Linked DNA regions of Homo sapiens. The protein of the gene in region 4 interacts with the protein of the main gene of each other region in a pairwise test. Each region holds a gene or a part of one and is shown on either strand. Other genes may lie near its edges. The genes, in order: CHIC2, PSMB2, KRTAP10-10 and AXIN2.

Region 1 (3,370 bases), on a different chromosome or scaffold from region 4:
GGAGAGGGATGGATAGGAGATGTAAAGAATTTAGTGAAAAAAATATTTACTACATTTATAACACAAACACTAAGCTTAAAACTGAGGTATTAATTTTTTCATGCATTTCTAAATTTACTTTGGAAAGGAAAACATAAAAGTTATCCCAATGCTATGAATTCCAGATAGAACTATATGACTATAATTTATTCATAAAATAATTTATAACCTTCCAAAACATTCTGAACTATATGCTTTGTTTGTCAAATAAGTTTCCTTGAATTTTTAGATAATTAAGCACTTCTGCTAAAGCCATTATATTATTTTCACTCCATCATAGAAGATACCCAGAAGAGTAGTAAAGATAAAATAAATATTTCAATTGCCAGGAAAAAGCTGGGTGTAGTGGGCATGCCAGTAGTCTAGCTGGGGAGGCTGAGGCAGCAGGATCACTTGCGTCTAGGAGTACAAAGACAGTTTGGGTAACATAGCAATACCCACCTCTCTTTAAAAAAAATAATAATAAGCTGGGGAGAAAAAATGTGTTCTGCTGGATTTTCTTAGAGTATATATATATATTTGTGATAGTTGAAAGTGAGAATAATGTAGCTTAAAAAATTTATAAAAATGAATTTTAAAAGTTAAACTAGCAAATAAAATTCATTTTATCTAATGAATTTGGGCCTTTTTAACCATGTGTCCCTCTTTTCTTCAACTTTTCTTTAACTTACAGGAATTTAATTTTGTTAAAAGAAAATAATTATCCTTGATTATAATTTGAACATTGGAGATACTAAAAAATATATATATATATATTCCACCTTGGCACTAACTTTTCTTTGTTCAGATATGGTAGAGATGGATGATTTAGAATAAATGAGACAAGTGGCCAGTCTCTATGTGTGGCTTCTGAAGGAAAAATTTGTAGAATATATTATTTAAAAACTAATAGTTCAAATGTAGGCAAAGATAGCCTTTATTTTATGTTATGTATTAAAAGTGTATATTATAAAGTGTGGGGATGCCCATACCTGGGGACTAAAATTATAAAGACTGATTGAGGACATACTTGAAATACAAAATTATTTATTTAATGTTGACTCCTAAGTAGTTTAAACATTTAATTGTCAAATTTTAAAGCTGCAAAGAATCTTGTTATCTAGTTCAATGCTTTTATTTTATAGATAAGAAACCTGAGAAACAGGAAAATCTAGCTCAAATGAAGAAGCTAGTTGGGAGAAAGTATTTTAACAGGGAGCTAGTGAATATTTTGTAGGCAAATCACAGGTCAGGAGAGTGGCAAATGTGACAGCTAAGCCTTAGTGCAGGATACCTAGAGTAGGACAGGAATATTTTTGAGCCAGGTATAGAAGTGTATCTTCTTTATTGAGGCAGATCAAAAGCCAGGAGAACTGAAGAGTGAAAATGAAGATTCCTGGCCCAGACAGCTAATTTGTAGAAGTATTGAAATCTGGAGGTCATATCAAGCAAGACACAGTTTCTGAAAAAGAATGATGAGTTCACTAGACTTAGAAACTTTTAAAATCAAATAATTTTTAAATCACCATCTATTTAATACAAATTTGGAGCAAAAGAAAGAGTTGACTGTAATTTAAGAAAATTCAAATTTGGAAAAATTAGCTCTGGTCACTTTGTGTAATTCTGTGTTACCATATTTTGTTTTTGTTGGTTTTCCTTTAGTTTCCTATTAAAAGGCCTTTTGGAACAAATTTTAGCCTTTAATTTTGCTAACCTAAGAAGAAATGGACTTTTTAAAAAATTAAGAGATAAAGGACCTTTTATCTAAAGATTACATATTCTGGTAGAGTAAAATGAGAGCAACTCTAGAACTTAGAGAAGACTCATGTAGTTGGGTTGATTAAAAAGGAGAAAGTCTAAAGAAAAATGTTGGGTGAGCTGCAGTCACGTAGGGTGGTATAAAGGGCAAGGCTTTGGAGTTAAGACAGTCTTTTATTCAAACAGTGACTCCACATTCAATTGTGATACAACTTCTCTGGATCATCAGTTTCCTCATCTGTGAAATAAGGATTATAATACTTGCCTCATAGAAAAGTTGTTGGGTTTAAAGAGACCCAATGTAGTATGGAACACCTGGTATACAGTTAGTTCTAAGTAAATACTAGCCTCTTTTCTCATGAGTGCAGGGGAGCGTGCATGTATGCATGTTTGCTCCTCCAGTGTATCAGGGGCACTATCTATATCACCCTTCTCAGACTTTGGTGATTTTACTTGCTTATTTGTCTTCCTTTTCATAGAGCCAAGGTATTTCGTGTATTTGGTAAAGGTCCAGAAATAAAAAGAAAAATTCTCAGTGATGGAACTCTGCATTATCAGATAAAGATCTGTTTTAGTAATGCAAAGTTGCGTTTTAAAATGTGAATGGATTTTCAAAAAAATTGTGAAAGCATATAATTGAAGTTTTAAGAAAAAATTTTGTTTAAATCTTTTAAAACCTTTTTCTTCTCCTTTTACAGGTCATCCTCATAGAATTTTTACCAAAGACACCGATTTTTCGACCAGATTAGCATTTACTTTATTTATAGAGACTTTCCAAGTATGTTGTCTTTCCAATGGTGCCTTGCTTGGTGCTCTCCTGGTGGTGACATAACATTGGTTCTACAGAATCGTGTGGTGTTTTTTTTGTTTTTGTTTTTGTTTTTTTTTTAAATAACCGCATGTTCTAAGTGTGCATTTTTGTCAATCTTTGCAACAGTTATTTCATACAGATGTTTAATACTTAAGTTATTGTGCTCTTTTCTGTTATGTATTCTGATTTTCAAGGATTACTTTTTTGTATTATCAAAAAAATACATTTGAACTTAGCATAAAAAGTGGCCAGCCTTTTTTATTTTGTCACCAAGGTACACACAGTCCTTTATTTATAAATTCCTTAACAGAGAAAAACACCTTTGTAAGGCTCAACTTACCTATTCCAGCAAGCACACTTTTTCTGTCATTTTTTCTTTCTTTTCAAATTTGATATTGTCATTATTTTAAAATAGTAAGTTTTCTTTAATAGTCTTTTGGGACCTAACATACCCTTTCTCATACAATTCCTAATGCTCTGTTTATGGCAGATAATCTGTAATGTTATGAAGACCTATCAAAAAGTTTTAAAAGTATTTCTGTCTTCAAAGGTAGTAAGACAGGATTAAATTTTTATTAGAATAGACAAATCAGTGAATGGTATGCATGTATCTAGTGGTTACTAGAACTCAGGATCACACAATATAGTAGCATCACGATCTGTGTATATTTTTGATCAAGATGATAATAATGGCCTTACTTGGGTTTTTATCGTTTATCAAATCTTACATACAAAAGAGTGGAAGTATTCCTTTACAAAATTTCTAAGGAAAATATTTCTTCC
Region 2 (7,053 bases), on a different chromosome or scaffold from region 4:
TCACTTGTGAGTTAGACAGGGGTAAGTCATATTATTAACATTTCACACATTTGGAAATAACATTTCACACATCTGGAAACTGGGGCTTAGAGAGGACAAGTAATTTGCCGAAGTTCAGAGTGCCAAGTCCACATCATAACCAAGGTCTCTTGGATTCTAGTTCAGTTGGTTTTCCACAGTATGACATGCTAATGTTGTTCATTTTGTTGGCCATTTGTTTCATGTATGTGGATCTCGTAAGTTCCTCGTCAAGAATCAGAAATTCCCCAGAGCTACACAGGCAGTTTCCTGTACAACTCAGGGGTCTCTAAGTATCTATCTCTTGTGTTTTTATTAAATATGTTGCCCTCTGCTACTCATTGGACATATTCAGTGTTTAAAAAACATTTTTGGCCTTGTATTAAGCTAATTTTAAAGTTGAACAGGTTACTGCCTAGGATTTTAGCCTTTCTTCTAAGTGTGACATAAGTTCTTTGTAAACAAGCTCCCCCTTCAAATAAAAATATCTTTTTTCTTATTATAAAAATAATGCGAACTTATTGAATAATGCTTTCTTATAAAAGTGAGGCATGTTAAGTATAGAAGTTTTAGGAAAAACCAACAAGCAAAAGAAGGAAACGAAAACTGCCCATACTCTTACCACTGGCAAGCACTTAGAATATACCCTTCTGCTCCTTTTTCTTTGCATAGATAATATAAGTGAATGTTTTTCGTTTATTAACAAGTTTGCAAACTAACAATCTTTAAATCTAGCCTGCATAACAAATAAAAGTGTGTTTGTTTAGGAGTTTTGAGGCAATTTGATATTATCTACAGGTGCATTTTGTGTGTTTTTTCCCTCCAAGTCTAAGAAGCCATATTACTGGTATCTACAACTCTGAAACACTTGTAAAGTATTTGACAGTAGCATTTTGTTCTTTAAATCCTATTAAAGGATTTTGGCATTTCAGAAGCTTTCAAACAGGAAACGTGTCTCCCAGGGAGGATTATTCAGCACTATTTGAAAAATGAAAAGTGAAAGTGAAAGTGAGATAGGAAGATTTAGGCCTTTTCTGAAGCTGCAGACTGAATGTGGAGTTTTCTTCCTTAGGCAATAACTGTAACCTGAATATTTATTTATCTGTCTAATCTGAATGACTCTGGTTCAGCTAGATAAGATTAGAGTATTAGGATTTTTGTGAGGTATTTTAAATAGCTTACTGTCAAAATATTCACTAGAATTTTTGCTTTGGCAATCATTTTAATTTTCTCTTTTTCTTTGGAAGTGGAATTTGTTTACTTTTTAAAGTGATTAATATTCTCAGTTGATTTTCTATTCTTTCTTGAAATGGTTCCTTAATTTTAATTATAGCACCAGTCCTTTTCATATATGCTTTTGTATGTGTATAAATATAATAACTAACATTTGTAGTTGTGGAAACATTTTAGGGCTTTGTTATCATGAGCCTAAAGATAATCGCCATTGGCTGGATTCCTTCAGTTTCTTCTGTCGTTCTGTTCCTTGCATTTCAAATGCCTTTAAATGCTTTAAATTGTATTTTCAATTGGTAGCTTTCATGTATATTCTCCAACCGAAATTGGCATTACACAATATGCTGATGGTTTAACATGAAGAGTGAAAGAGAAAAATTGATACCATTACCTATTAAAATCTTCTAAAAGCAATAATTAGTTAAATTATTCAATATACAGTCGTCCCTTGGTATCTGTAGGGATTGGTTCCAGAACCCCTGCAGATACCCAAATCCATAGATGCTTAAAGTCCATTATATACATGGTATAGTATTTGCATATTACCTATGCAGGTACTCCTGTGTACTTCAAATCATCTCTAGATTATTTATAATACTTAATATGACATAAGTGCTATGTAAATAGTTGTTATACCATATTGTTTAGGGAATAATGACCAGAAAAAAAGTCAGTACATGTTCAGGATAGATGCAAGCATCCATTTTTTTTTTTTTCTGAATAATTTTGATCCATAGTTTGTTGAATTGTGGATTCAGAATCCATGTATATGGAAGGCCAACTGTAGTAATTAATAAACCTGTTTATGGTTACATAAATAATGACGGTCAATGTCTGTTAAGGCAGTTTCTAACACAGTTTTCTTCTTTGAGCAGATCATGACAAGATGTTTAAGATGAGTGAAAAGATATTACTCCTGTGTGTTGGAGAGGCTGGAGACACTGTACAGTTTGCAGAATATATTCAGAAAAACGTGCAACTTTATAAGATGCGAAATGGTGGGTAAGACTTACAGTTTTAGTTGGCATATGAGTTTACTAGGGCTGCCATTACTAAAGTCACAGACTGGGTGGCTTAAACAACAGAAATGTATTTTCTCACAGTTCTAGATGTTAGAAGTCAAAGATTAAGGTGTTGGCAGCGTTGATTTCTGAGGCCTCTCTCCTTGGCTTGCAGATAGCCATCTTCTCCCTGTGTCTTCACGTGATTTTTCTCTTTGTACTATATCCAAATTTTCTCTTCTAAGAATACCAGTCATGTTGAATTAGGAACTCATTTTAATTTAATAACCTCTTAAGGATCCCTTCTCCAAATACAGTCACATACTAAAGTACTAGGGATTAAGACTTCAACATATGAATTTTTGGTGGACAAAATTCAGCCTATAACAATTGGTTTGTCTTTAAATTTGAACTGAAAAATAATATTCTTTAAGACTTATGTGGTCATATTTTCTTTTTTTTTTTTTTTTTTTTTTTTGAGACGGAGTCTCGCTCTGTTGCCCAGGCTGGAGTGCAATGGCGCGATCTCTGCTTACTGCAACCTCCGCCTCCCAGGTTCAAGCGATTCTCCTGTCTCAGCCTCCTGAGTAGCTGGGACTACAGGCACGCACCACCACGTCCAGCTAATTTTTGTATTTTTAGTAGAGACAGGGTTTCACCACGTTGACCAGGATGGTCTCCATCTCTTGACCTTGTGATCTGCCCACCTCGGCCTCCCAAAGTGCTGGGATTACAGGCGTGAGCCACCACGCCCAGCCCATATTTTCATTAGAGTTTTCTGTGTTTAAGAAGTTGTCTAGACCCTAAAGATTCTAATCCTTCATAAAAGATTTTCTACAAAAATCCTAGAGCAGAGAACTGTTGTAACACTGATAGCTGATAGATAAAACTAACACCATCGGCCTGGTATGATGGCTCATGCCTGTAATCCCAGCAATTGGGGAGGACAAGGTGGGAGGATCACTTGAGACCAGGAGTTTAAGACTAGCCTGAGCAATGTAGTGACACCTCATCTCTACAAAAAAAAAAAAAATTTTTTTTTTTTTTGAGATGGAGTTTCACTCTTGTTGTCCAGGCTGGAGTGCAGTGGCACAATCTCGGCTCACCGCAACCTCTGCCTTCCAGGTTCAAGCAATCCTCCTGCCTCAGCCTCCCAAGTAGCTGGGATTACAGGCATGTGCCACCACGCCTGGCTAATTTTGTATTTTTAGTAGAGACAGGGTTTCTCCATGTTGGTCAGGCTGGTCTCAAACTCATGACCTCAGATGATCTGCCCACCTCGGCCTCCCAAAGTTCTGGGATTACAGGTGTGAGCCACCACGCCCGGCCTTCTACAAAAAAGTTTTTAAAAATTAGCTGAGTGTGGTGGCATGCACCTATAGCCCTAGCTACTCAGGAGGCTGAGGCAGGAAGATCGTTTGAGCCCAGGAGGTCGAGGCTGCAGTGAGTTATGATTGTGCCACTGTACTCTGGAAGGCAGCAAGACTCTGTCTCTAAAAAAAATTTTTTTAAACCAACCAAAAAAAAAAAAACCCAACACCATCTTGGAGGTAGGGATGGTAGTATCAGACTTTTTAAGTGTTAGATATCTCAGAGGATGTGGTTTGAGTTTAAAAGTATCTGAACCTGGCCAGGCACAGTGGCTAGCACCTGTAATCCCAGCACTTTTGAGAGGCTGAGATGGGAGGATCACTTGAGGTCAGGAGTTTGAAACCAGCCTAGGCAACAAAGCAAGACCCTGGCTCTATAAAAAATAAAAATATTTACCTGGGTGCAGTGGTGCACACCCATAGTCCCAGCTACTCAGGAAGCTGAAGTGGGAAGATCACTTGAGCCCAGGAGTTCAAGGTCTCAGTGAGCCATGATAGTGCCACTGCACTCCAGCCTGTGCGACAGAGTGAGACCCTGTCTCAAAACAAAGAAACAAAAAAATCTGAATCTCAGCGTCAAAAAACCTAAGTAAACCTTGGCTTTACTATTTTTTATGTGATAAGTCATTTATCTTCTCTGGGACTTTATTTTCCTTATCTCTGAAATGAATTATAATACTAATGAATAATACATATGAAAATATTTTGTAAACCTAAAGCATTGTGTAACTAACTATAAGTATTTACTGTGCCATAAAAGGGTTCTGCCTTACTCTCTGGTAGGTTTCCTTCTAGAGAGATAATTAAGACTTTTGTGAAGTATTTTGTGAGCTCTCTCTGGGGCTAATGAACTCTTATCCACTGGGAAAACCTCCCTAGCAAACGATACTAGCCACTAGGCCTCTGATCCAGGAATGTTTGTAGTGGTGGTCTGGCAGAGAAAACCTTATTTCCACTTACCTCACAGTTCAATAACAACGTTATACACTGCACTGGTATAATATGGAGCTATGAAGGAAGTTAATTTGAATATACTTGCATGTGTAAAATGACCAAAGATCTATTCACATAGTTTGGGCAGTGGATTTAGCATTTGTATTCAATTCCATAAATACTTTTGAGGGCCTCTTCTATGGTAAGCATTCTGCTTAATACTTAAGAGAATTCAAAGATGAATAAGGCTTAGTCCTGACATTCAGGAACATAAAGTACATGGTACTTAGGTTTATGCAGGTTTAGAATATTTCAAGAATTCTGCTTTTTTTTCCAGTGGTTCCACTTTTTGCCTGCATAACAAATGAAGTATGTCAGTAATGCTTCTGAAGTCCAGTAGGTACTGTATGACTTCACTGGCTGTCCTGAGAGAGGGAGAAGAGTGAACAAGAGTAGCAAGAGTTGTTTGTTACTGGGTTTTAGGGTCTAAAGTCAGTGCACAGACAAAAACTGTGTTTGGTTAAAATTGCCCTTAAAGACCCTTAAATTACCTGCCAAGTACAGTTTTGTGTATGTAACTCTATATAGTAATTCTTATATAAGTTAAAGAACTGAGCTAAAATAAGGGAAAGAAAGAGAAAATCTATATGCAGATAATCAGGCATGACTTTTCTGCCTTTAGGATAATGGTCAGATCTTCAGTGGTGTTTAGGGGGTTAAGTAAAGAATTGAATAGTATTCCCACTTGTCTAGGTTCCTTCTTTTTTTTTTTTTTTCTTTTTTGAGTCAGGGTCTCGTTCTGTTGCTCAGATTGGAGTGCAGTGGTGCAGTCTCAGCCCACTGCAACTTCCAGCTCCTGGGTGCAAGTGATTCTCGTGCCTCAGCCTCCTGAGTAGTTGGGATTATAGGCATGCACCGCCATGCCTGGCTAATTTTTTGTATTTTAAGTAGAGACAGAGTTTCGCTATGGTGGCCAGGCTGGTCTTAAACTCCTGTCCCCAGGTGATCCACCCACCTGGGCCTCCCAAAGTGTTCTGGGATTACAGGTGTGAGCCACTGTGCCTGGCCTCTTTTTTTAAATTATTATTATTATTTTTGTTGTTGTTGTTGAGACAGGGTCTCACTCCTGTCGCCTGGGCTGGAGTGCAGTGGCACAATCATGGCTCATTGCAGCCTCGAATTCCCAGGCTCAGGTGATCCTTCCACCTCAGCCTCCCAACTACCTGGGAAAACAGGTGTGCACCACCACCCCTGGCTAATTTTTATATTTTTAGTAGAGACGGGGTTTCATCATGTTGCCCAGAATGGTCTTAAACTCCTGGGCTCGAGTGATCTGCCTGCCTCCGCTTCCCAAAGTGCTGTGATTACAGGCATGAGCCACTGCACCTGGCCAAGGATTGCTTTCATTATGATTTAATATGCACTAATAGACTTGTGAGGATAAAGTACAATAATACATGTGAAAACACTCAGCATAGACCCTGAAACATAGTTGCTGCTCAATAAATATTTGTTAGGATTTGAATCTGAATCTCTCCTAATTTGACAGTGGTATTTGAAATGTTGTAAGCAATTACTTAACCACACTGCTGTGTGTCTTTCCATACTGACATTTTCTGTGTGGGCCCACTGAGTTATGGATCATTCTTGTGCCTTTTGGCACTGGTCCCATTCTACAGGGGGATTAAGCTCCAAAGTGAATGCGTTATTACATGCACACCTGATGCTATTCCTCTGGGTTGTACCTTTGTTGGTATGACAACTTTTATTTTTGAAGTTTTAACACTTGAGATACTCTATTTTTAAAAATACTGCAGAATGATGGAAATGTTCTTTTTCTGTGGCTTATACTTTTGAAAGTCATATTATACTTCTTAATAAAGTAACATTTAAAATATTTTTTTAATAAACTATGACTCTGAGGTAGTCCTAACTTCTAGCCTCTCTTTTCCCAATATCCTTTTTGTTCCTGTTTTCGTTTTTTTAGAGACAGGGTCTTGCTCTGTCACCCATGCTGTAGTGCAGTGGCACAGTCATAACTCACTTGAACTTCTGGGGTCAATTGATCCTCTCCACTCAGCCTCCTAAGTAGCTGGGATTACAGGCATGTACCACCATGCCTAGAAATTTAAAAAAAAATTTTTTTTAGAGATGGGGGTCTCACTATGTTGCCCAGGCTAGTCTCAAACTCCTGGGCTCAAGCGATCTTCCCACCTTGGCTTCCCAAAGCTCTAGGATTACAGGCATGAGCCACTGTGACTGGCCCCCAATATCCTTTTTAAAATAAACTTTTAAAAGATTGGCATCTAAGACGCCTTTCTTTTTTTTTCACTTCTTGTGTATTCGTGTTCCTTTCCTTCTACGGCAGAAACCACAGTGTGTTGATGAATGAATAGTTTAAGCAAGGCTGCTAGAAGTTTCATTCCACTATAGAACTGGTTCTGTTTGTGGCCAAGAATTGCTGTCAGTACTAACCAGCTATTTCATAGCTGTTGCAT
Region 3 (6,587 bases), on a different chromosome or scaffold from region 4:
AGTCCTGGGGGAGGGCGTGGTCCCAATGTCTTACTGTGGAGGAGATGAGGGCTGCAGGGATGAGCACTGTGGTCCATAGCTGGTCTCCCCAGGGGTAACAGGAGGGGTGAGGCTGCTGGGTGGAGCCAGGCCCCAGGTGGTCTACCCCAGGCCTGGGGGGCAGCCATGGAGCTGGGGAGGGTGAATGTGGCTCAGGGGCCCAGAGTGCTGCCAGGGTCCACTTTGTCCCGAAACTCCTGGCCTTGGTTCCAGAGGCAGCTTTCCTAAGATGGGCCGGGGGGCCACGTGCTGGGGTTGGGGGCCCACGGGGCTAAGAGGGAGACTGGCCTTCAGGGTTCACAGAGGCCAGCACCAGAAGGCATTGCTTCCTGCCTCATCCCATGCCCCTCGGGGGTCCACAGACAGGATGGAAGGTCGACAGAGACAGAGGGGTGGAGCCAGGCCTGCTGGGGGTCAGGACTCTCCCTGCAGTCAGGGGTGGCATCACTTCCCACCTCACCCTGTGCCCCCCCGGGGGTCCACAGACAGGACAGAGGTTGGTGTGAGACAGAGGCGGCTTTATTAGAACTAGAGGGGGTGCTGCCCAGGGTGGAACCAGGCCTGCTGGGGGTTAGTTCTGCAGAACTTGGGTCTGGGGGAGTAGCTGGGGTCCCACAGGCAGCCATCATCTGGGAAGGACTGGGGGAGCATCCTGGTCCCCAAGACAAAGAGCCTGCCCCACCTTCTGAGGGTGTCAAAGCCAGAGAGGGCAGAGCTTGCTGGGGCAGCTGGGAGGTCAGCCCCTGGTGGGAAGGGACTCCGGATCACATCCAGGGCTGTCAGCAGCTGGACTTCTGGCCAGAGCAGAGGCTGTAGCAGGCAGGGCGGGAGCACACGGGGCGGCAGAGGAGGGAAACACAGGAGGCCGTGCGGCAGCAGCTGGGCTGGCAGGAGGAGGCAGAGGCACCGCAGGAGGGGACGGGCACGCAGCAGGTGGACTTGCACACAGGGTGGCAGAGGAGGGACACGGAGGAGGAGGGTCTGCAGCAGGAGGCGGTGCAGCAAGCAGGCTGGCAGCTAGACTGCTGGCAGCATGAAGTGGAAGCCCCAGAGCACACAGGCACATAGCAGACGGACTTAGAGCAGACAGGCACACAGCAGGCCTGCTGGCATGGGGAGGAGGTGCAGCAAGTTGGCTGGCAGCTAGACTGCTGGCAGCATGAAGGGGAAGACTCGGAGCAGGTAGGCACGAAGCACACAGGCTTGTTACAGACGGGCACGCAGCAGACGGGCACACAGCAGACAGGCACACAGCAGGCCTGCTGGCAGGGGGAGGAGGTGCAGCAATCCGGCTGGCAGCTAGACTGCTGGTAGCATGGGGTTGTGCAGGAGCTGGTGTAGCCTGATTGGCAGGCGCTGGGCTCACAGGCCGTCTGGCAGCAGGGGCTGGACACACAGCTCACTGGGGTGCAGACCAGGGTCAAGCTGGGGGCTGGGGCACAGCAGCAGGGCTCGCAGCAGCTCTCTGGGCAGTCGACTACCCGCCAAGAGTCAGTGCAGGCGCTGGAGCAGATGGACATGGTGGAGGCGGCCATGCTGGAGTGGGGAGGCGGTGAGCTGGGGGAGGTGTGTGAGTGAGTGAGTGTGTGAGTGAGTGTGTGTGTGAGCCTGTCAGCTGCTGGGGCTTTTATATGCCCAGGGCCTGTGTTTTCCCAGCAGGAGACTCAGCAATGCCCTCCCCTTCCGTGTTGGTGTTTGGAGCCGGGAGGACCCTCATTATTTCTGCTTCCTTTGCCATGACTTGTCCTCACTCTGCTCCTAACACTTGGCTGGTCCTGGGCAGGACCGGCGCCCCTGGCTGAGCCTGTCTCCCGGGAACACCAGGAGGGAAGGTGTGACCTCTCTGGGGCTGACCTGGTGACTTCCACCTGGCAGGTCCCGTGACTGTGCCCAGCGTGGGCCCTCAGCCTGGGGGAGGCCCAGCCTCTGTCTGCAGGGACCTCACGGGGTGGGCTGGCGTGGCTGAGATTGGGAGAGCCAGGACGGAGGTGCCTGTGTTGGGAAAAGATGCTTGAAGACAGCGCTTCCTGGCGGGCTCTGGGATCTTCTGAGATCCTGATGTCTGCCAAGGGCAGGAGGACAGGGAGGACCTCCCCTCCTCTGAGGAGATGGAATGTTCTGGCAAGGCCTCTGGACAGTCAGCTCATTAGGAGGACAAGGTTTGGGGACTGGCCTTTGGGTCTGGACTGCCATCCCCTGGAGCCCTGGTCAGGTGTCCTGAGAGGGGCGGGTGCAGGTCAGGGTCTGAGGGTGGGGAGGGGCCTCTACCTTGGAGAGGCAGGTGTGGAGTGAGGGTTGCGTGGAGAGTGGAGGATACTTGGGGTCTGGATGAGAAAAGTGTCAGATGGGGCCACAGTCAGCCCCACTGCCCGGACGCCTGGTCTTACTCTATGTTTGCACTTTGGCTGAAGCCACATGCCAAGAAGTTGAAATGTGATGTGAATTTCTAGTATCTGTAGGTGACATCATTGTCCACCTAGGATCAGAGTGACTGTCCCAGGCCACGCTCACTGAAGGGCTGGATGAGAGACAAAGTCACTGCACCCAGCACCCCCTACCTGTACCCCTGCCATGACAGTGTGGAAATACAATGGGAAAGGAAGCCCGTCAGCCAGCAGACCCAAGTATAAAATGCCCAGTGGAATGTCAGAGGGTCAGATGTGAACGAAAGCATAAACCTTGACCAGAACACATACAACGTATGTCCCCTGGAAACCCGGCAGGGTTGGGTGCTGGAGACCGGTCCACATGCCTCAGCTCAGCTCAGCATCCACGACGTTCCCATCACAGCCCTGAAGGAATCATTGGGTACACAAATGAAGATATGAACTGCCAGAAAGTACTTGTAATCTCCATGACAGGTGGAAGATTAATGTGAAAAATTTGAAGTCCTTACCACTAAAACAGGATAAGATACAAAAGAAATGAATAGAAGACTAAAAATTTTAAATTTCCAATAAGCATGAATGAGATGAACAGCTAGTTGATCTCATTAATAACTAAAGTTTCTCAGGTTTAAACACACGTCTCCCACCTGTAAGAGCAAACAAGATTTAAAATGCTGATAATATCCAGCATTGCAGAGCGAGGGGCTTCATTCTTAGAAACCCTTGGCAGGTGTAATTTTATTTAAATTGTGATCAACCATAAAATAAAATGTACCATTTTACCCATTTTAAAGTGTGCAATTCAGTGACAGTACAGTCATAATGTTGTGCAACCATCCCCACTACCTAGTTCCAGAATACTATCATCGCTCCCGAAGGAACCCCGGTACTATTAAGCAGCCATGCCCAGCCCCTGGCAACCAATACTATTCTGCTTGTCTCTATGGATTTGCCTGTTCTGCACATTTCATATAGACGCAGTCATGGAATATGTGGTCTTTGTGTCTAGCTTTGTTCACTCAGCATGTTTTCAAGGTACACCTGTGTTTGGGTATGTTTCAGAACGCCATTCCTTTTCTTGGCTGAATCATATTCCATCAAAGGGACACGCCACATTTCATTTATCCATTCATCTGCTAATGCACTTTTGGGTTCTTTTCAACTTTTGGCTAGTGTGAATAGTGCTTCTATAAACATTCTTTTTTTTTTTTTTTTTTTTTGAGACAGAGTCTCCCTCTGTCACCCAGGCTGGAGTGCAGTGGCCCCATCTCGGCTCACTGCAACCTCCACCTCCCGGGTACAAGTGATTCTCCTGCCTCAGCCTCCCAAGTAGCTGGGATTACAGGTGCGCACCACCACACCCAGCTAATTTTTTATATTTTTGGTAGAGACGGGGTTTCACCATGTTGGCCAGGCTGGTCTTGAACTCCTGACCTCAAGTGATCCTCCCGCCTCGGCCTCCCAAAGTGCTGGGATTACAGGCATGAGCCACTGCGCCCGGCCCTATAAACATTCTTGTACATGTTTCTGTTTGAACACCTCTTTTTAATTCTGTTGGGTATATACCTAGGAGTGGGAACTGATGAGTTGTATGGAATTCCATGTTTACATTTTGAGGACGTGCCAGACTGTTTTTCACAGCATCTGTACCATTTTATATTCTCACTAGCAATGTACAAACATTCCAGTTTCTCTTCATCCTTGTCAACATCTGCTACCTTCTATTTGTTGGTGTATGTGTGTGTTAAATTATAGCCATCTTGGTGGGTATGAAGTATCAACAGCATGTCATTGTGGTGTGGATTTCTGTTTCCCTAATGACCAATAACATTGAGCTTCTTTTCCTGCGTGTATCATCCATTTGCATATCCTCCTTGGAGAAATGTCTATTAAAGGACTTTGCCTATTTTTAAATTGGGTTGACTTTTTGTTGTTGAATTATAAGAGTTCTTTATATATTCTGGGTGTTAGATCCTTATCAGAATTATGATTTACAAGCATGTTCTTCCCTTGTGTGGGTTGTTTTACTCTCTTGATAGTGTCCTTTGATGCACAAAACTTTTTAATTTTGATGACATCCAATTTATCTATTTTTTCCTTTTGTTGCTTATGCTTCTGGTGTCATATCTAAAAAACCATTGCCCAAAATAAGGTCATACATATTTACTCTTATGTTTCCTTCTAAGAATTTTATGGCTTTATCTCATATATGTAGGGCTTTGATCCATTTTTAGTTAATTTGTTGGTGTGAGATGTAGTGCAACTTTATGATTTTGTGTGTAGATATCCAGTTGTCCTAGCACCATTAAAACAGAGACAGGGTATTGCTCAGCCTGTTGCCCAGGCTGGAGTGCAGTGGCACAATCATAACTCATTGCAGCCTCAAACTCCTGGACTTAAGTGATCCTCCCACCTCAGTTTCCCAGGTAGCTGGGACTACAGGTGCACACCACTATATTTGGCTAATGAAAAAACATATTTTTTTAGGGACCAGGGTCTTACTCTGTTACCCAGGCTGGTCTCGAACTCTTGGCCTTAAACAATCCTCTCATCTCAACCTCCTGAGTAGTTGGGATTACAGGCATAAGCCATCATTTTATAGCATTTGTGTACCTAACATCAGTTATAAACATTCATGTACCTAACAAACATCAGACCCCCAAGATATATCAAGCATAAATGGAAAGAAGAGAAGAAAGAAATAGGCAATTCCAGTTCAACAATAATGTTTGAAGACTTCAATAAGTCACTTCCACTGATTAAAAAAAATTTTTAAATAGAACTAGATCAAAGATCAATAACGAAATAGAGAACTTGAAGAACACTATAAACAAGCTAGATCTAATATGGCCGTGTATAAAACATTCAACCCAACAACAGCAGAATACAAATTCTTCTCAGTTCTCCAGATTAGACCATATGTTAGTCCAAAAAACAAGTCTCAATAAATTTAAAATTATTGAAATCATATAATGTATCTTCTCTGACCACAGTGGGAATTAGAAATCAATAACAGAAGGAAAACTGGAAAATTCACAAATATGTGGCAATTAAACAACACATACTTATAACAACCAGTTGATTGAAGAATAAATCAAAAGAGAAGTTAGAAAATACTATGGGATAAATGACAGTGACAATATAACAAACCAAAACTTATGGGATACGGCAAAACAGTTTATGGAGGGAAATTTGTAGCTATAAATGCTTATATTAAAAAACAAGAAAGATCTCAATTCAGTAATCTAACTTCACACCTTAAGGAACCAGGAAAAGGAAGAGCAAACTAAACCAAAACCTAGAAGAAGGAAGAAAATAAAGATTATATGTAGAATACAGGGAGCAAATAAAGAAATTGAGAATAGAAAAACAATGGAACCAACGAAGCCTAAAATTAGTTTTTTGAAAGCAACAATAAAATTTACAAACCTTTAACTAGACTGAGAAAAAAGAGAAGGCTCTAATTATTAAAATCAGAAATGAAAGTGGGAACATTACTGCTGACCTATATAGATAAAAAAGACTATAAGAGAATATATGAACAATTGTACACTAACACATAAAATCAATAAAATTTATTCCATTTAAGCATGTTTAGTGATATTAAATACATTCATAATGTAGATAACCTAGATGTAATGGATAAATTCCTATTAACATACAAACTACCAAAACTGATACCTTTATTAGTGTTCTTTATTTCTTTTCTTCTTTTTCTTTTTGAGATGGAGTCTTGCACTGCCACCCAGGCTGGAGAGCAGTGGCACGATCTTGGCTCACTGCAACCTCTGCCTCCCAGGTTCAAGTGATTCTCCTTGCCTCAGCCTCCCAACTAGCTGGGATTACAGGTGCCCACCACCACACTCAGCTATTTTTTTTTGTGTGTGTATTTTTAGCAGAGATGGAGTTTCACTATGTTGGCCAGGCTGGTCTCAAACCCTTGACCTTCTGATCTGCCCGCCTCAGCCTCCCAAAGTGCTGGGATTACAGGCGTGAGCCACTGTGCCCAGCCAGTTCTTTATTTCTTAATATGGCTTCAAGTTATTGTCTAGTGCCCTTTGATTTCATCCTGAGCTGTCATTTCTTGTAGGGCAGGCCTACTGGCAATAAACTCTCTCAGCATTTATTTATCCAGAAGTGTCCTAATTTCTCCTTTAGTTT
Region 4 (2,639 bases):
GACACCTGACCGGCCCTGAGCCTGATGGCTCACGATAAAATACTGATAGGATTAATAGTCAGCCTTGTTGATCAGCTCCCAGAATGGGGAGGGTGCCTGGCTAGCTTTGATCTCTAAGTCCATTGGCCCCACGTGGACATTCCAGGTCTATGAAACCATCTGCTGAACGGCTTTCATGTCGGAGACACCTGTTGAAACTCCTGGGAGGGCCTCCTCTCATCCCCTGGTCCCCTGCACCTACCTGGCCGGACTGGAGACAATCTGCCCAGGAGGAAGAGGCTGAATGGAGGTGTTACAGGGAAGAGGACCCCCAAAGGAGATGTCATCTACAGCCTGCTCCAAGGCAAGAAAAGCCTCAGCCAGTAGCCAGGTGATTTGAATAAATGGCTTTACAAAACCTCCAGGTGGGTCCAGATCAGGTCAGGGCTCAAGGTCAGAGACGGGCTTGGGCAAGGTAGGAAATCAAGCACAGATGTCTACACACAAAAGGGCCCCTCGGCCCTGTTCCCACCCTGGGGATTCAAAGACGAGGCCAGTGTTTTGAAAAATATAAAATTTTAATAAAGGCTACATCTCTTAATTACAATAATTATTGTACCAAGTAATTTTCCTTAAATGAACTCTTTATAATGCATAATTTACAGTATAAGTAGAACAAAATGTCATGACAAAAGTCATTGAGTACAAGACTTGTAATAAAAAGGCATAAAATATATTTATACATAAACCCCTTTCAAAAAACAAGGGAAAGCTTGAGCCCTCAATATAGGGCGACACACGGAGCGGGTGACCGTGCAGGTACAGGTACTGTACTGATTTAAAGTCAAGCACTAGAGATAGTGGATTAATACTCTTTTGCCGTACACTATATACAGATGTATAGTACAAGTAACAATGGCAAACAGAATGTACAGATTAACTTAACACAAAAACCCGAACATCAAAATGAAGGTGTGTGGAGGAAAGGTGCTGCTGGGTCTCCCTACAACTGTTCATTTCTTTGTGGGGCAGGGGGTAGTTCCTGAATGGCTGTGGTCCAATGACTAATGTAAAACAAAAACAGAAACAAAAAAAACAAGGAACTGTCATTTCCACGAAAGCACAGCGGCAGTGATTCTAGCAGGCCTCAGGGCCCTGGGCCTGGGGAGGCTACATGAGGGGGAGCCTCAGTCACAGGATCAACCTGGGGCCCGAAGGAGCAGGGTTCCCTGCCTCTCCCTCTGCAACAGATCATCCCATCCAACACAACCCCCAAAATGTTGATGATGACGCAACATGGTCAACCCTCAAGACCTTTAAGACAAAACAGAGCAGCATAGGAAAAAAAAAAACAAAACGCACCAATTTCTGCATGTGTCAATGGTAGGGCACCATTTTAAAAAGTCTGTCTAAAACAGTCTGTCTTCACTTGGAGGGACGTAGTGCAAAGCATAATTCCTCTGTTAGTGAAGAAACCATGAACGCACTCCTAGCTCAACTCCTAAGTTTAGTCAGAACAATTAAAACTTCCTGTCTCCCCCTTCCAAGTTTAAAGCAGCATATCCATAAACTGGGGATGGGGGAAATCAACTGTTCTATAAATATCAGTAAGGATTCCTGTTCAGGTAAGCTATACACAGTTTCTCTTAGTTTATGGATTTCAGATCCCTAGGAAGTCATATATTATGTATGGCAGTCTCTCAAATACAGGCAGCATCTTCAATAGCCAAGAGTGGTCATGTTTTTAATAAATAGTTCAGGCTTTTCTTATCTCAGTCAGTACCCAGCTCATGAATCATGAAAATCAACCTCCCCCCGCCCTCCCGAAGGCCCACTGGCCGATTCTTCCTTAGACTTTGTCTTCTTCATTGGTTTAATTTTCCTTCAAAATGTTTTGTCGCAGTTGCTCACAGCCAAGACAGTTCACAAGAGCTTCGGGCTCCAACAGTTCACCAAAGCCAGACCCCAGGGCTCAATCGATCCGCTCCACTTTGCCCAGAATCCGGCCTTCATACATCGGGAGCACCGTCTCATCCTCCCAGATCTCCTCAAACACCGCTCCACAGGCAAACTCATCGCTTGCTTTTTTGAAGTAATACCTTAAAAGGAAAACCAAAAAAGCTTCTTGGTAAACTGCATTTTCCACATTGTTGAAAAGAAAAGCATACCAACATGGAGGACTGAGGTATCCTAGGAATTTGCTATGGCAGGTGTGCCTGTACACTGTTGCGCACATCTGCTTTAAGACGGCAGCTGGGACTGGCCACACCACAAGAAGCAGGTGGGCCGAGATGATGAAGGCCAGGCACCCACTGAGCAGCAGCCTGGGCTGGGCCTGCCACCTGCAATCTTCAACCCAGCACCTCTGCTGTCTCCTGACACGTATACACTGTGAAAAGCAGAGCTGCTTTCCCCCCGCCAACCTTTTTCAGCAGTGGGGTGGGGGAGGGAAGGGAAGGACAAATGCCTGCAGTTCCTTTGCAGCAGGAGCCAAGCAGGTCCTTCAAAGAGACTCCAGACTATCTCCAGGTTCAGCCATCCTGAACCCATCACACCTGGAGAGCCGGAACCTGCCGAAGTCTGTAAAAGGCTGACTTCCAGATGGTTTAGCAGTCCAAAGGCCTCTCGGCCTTCCCATCCTCCAGGTCCCAAGTGCAACA

The links.
Region 1: the proteins of AXIN2 (region 4) and CHIC2 interact in binary tests that used the Homo sapiens proteins (3 or more experiments, as listed by UniProt).
Region 2: the proteins of AXIN2 (region 4) and PSMB2 interact in binary tests that used the Homo sapiens proteins (3 or more experiments, as listed by UniProt).
Region 3: the proteins of AXIN2 (region 4) and KRTAP10-10 interact in binary tests that used the Homo sapiens proteins (3 or more experiments, as listed by UniProt).

The regions. Positions count from the first base shown.
Region 1 is NC_000004.12:54,009,250-54,012,619, reverse strand, and holds the end of CHIC2 (cysteine-rich hydrophobic domain-containing protein 2), read left to right. Parts: intron 1-2,474; coding exon 2,475-2,525; 3' UTR 2,526-2,831; downstream 2,832-3,370.
Region 2 is NC_000001.11:35,631,506-35,638,558, reverse strand, and holds part of PSMB2 (proteasome subunit beta type-2), read left to right. Parts: intron 1-2,126; coding exon 2,127-2,249; intron 2,250-7,021; exon of another isoform or gene 7,022-7,053. UniProt on the Homo sapiens protein: Non-catalytic component of the 20S core proteasome complex involved in the proteolytic degradation of most intracellular proteins. This complex plays numerous essential roles within the cell by associating with different regulatory particles.
Region 3 is NC_000021.9:44,632,405-44,638,991, reverse strand, and holds KRTAP10-10 (keratin-associated protein 10-10), read right to left. Parts: upstream 1,637-6,587; 5' UTR 1,575-1,636; coding exon 819-1,574; 3' UTR 537-818; downstream 1-536. UniProt on the Homo sapiens protein: In the hair cortex, hair keratin intermediate filaments are embedded in an interfilamentous matrix, consisting of hair keratin-associated proteins (KRTAP), which are essential for the formation of a rigid and resistant hair shaft through their extensive disulfide bond cross-linking with abundant cysteine residues of hair keratins.
Region 4 is NC_000017.11:65,528,025-65,530,663, forward strand, and holds the end of AXIN2 (axin-2), read right to left. Parts: intron 2,079-2,639; coding exon 1,952-2,078; 3' UTR 539-1,951; downstream 1-538. UniProt on the Homo sapiens protein: Inhibitor of the Wnt signaling pathway. Down-regulates beta-catenin. Probably facilitate the phosphorylation of beta-catenin and APC by GSK3B.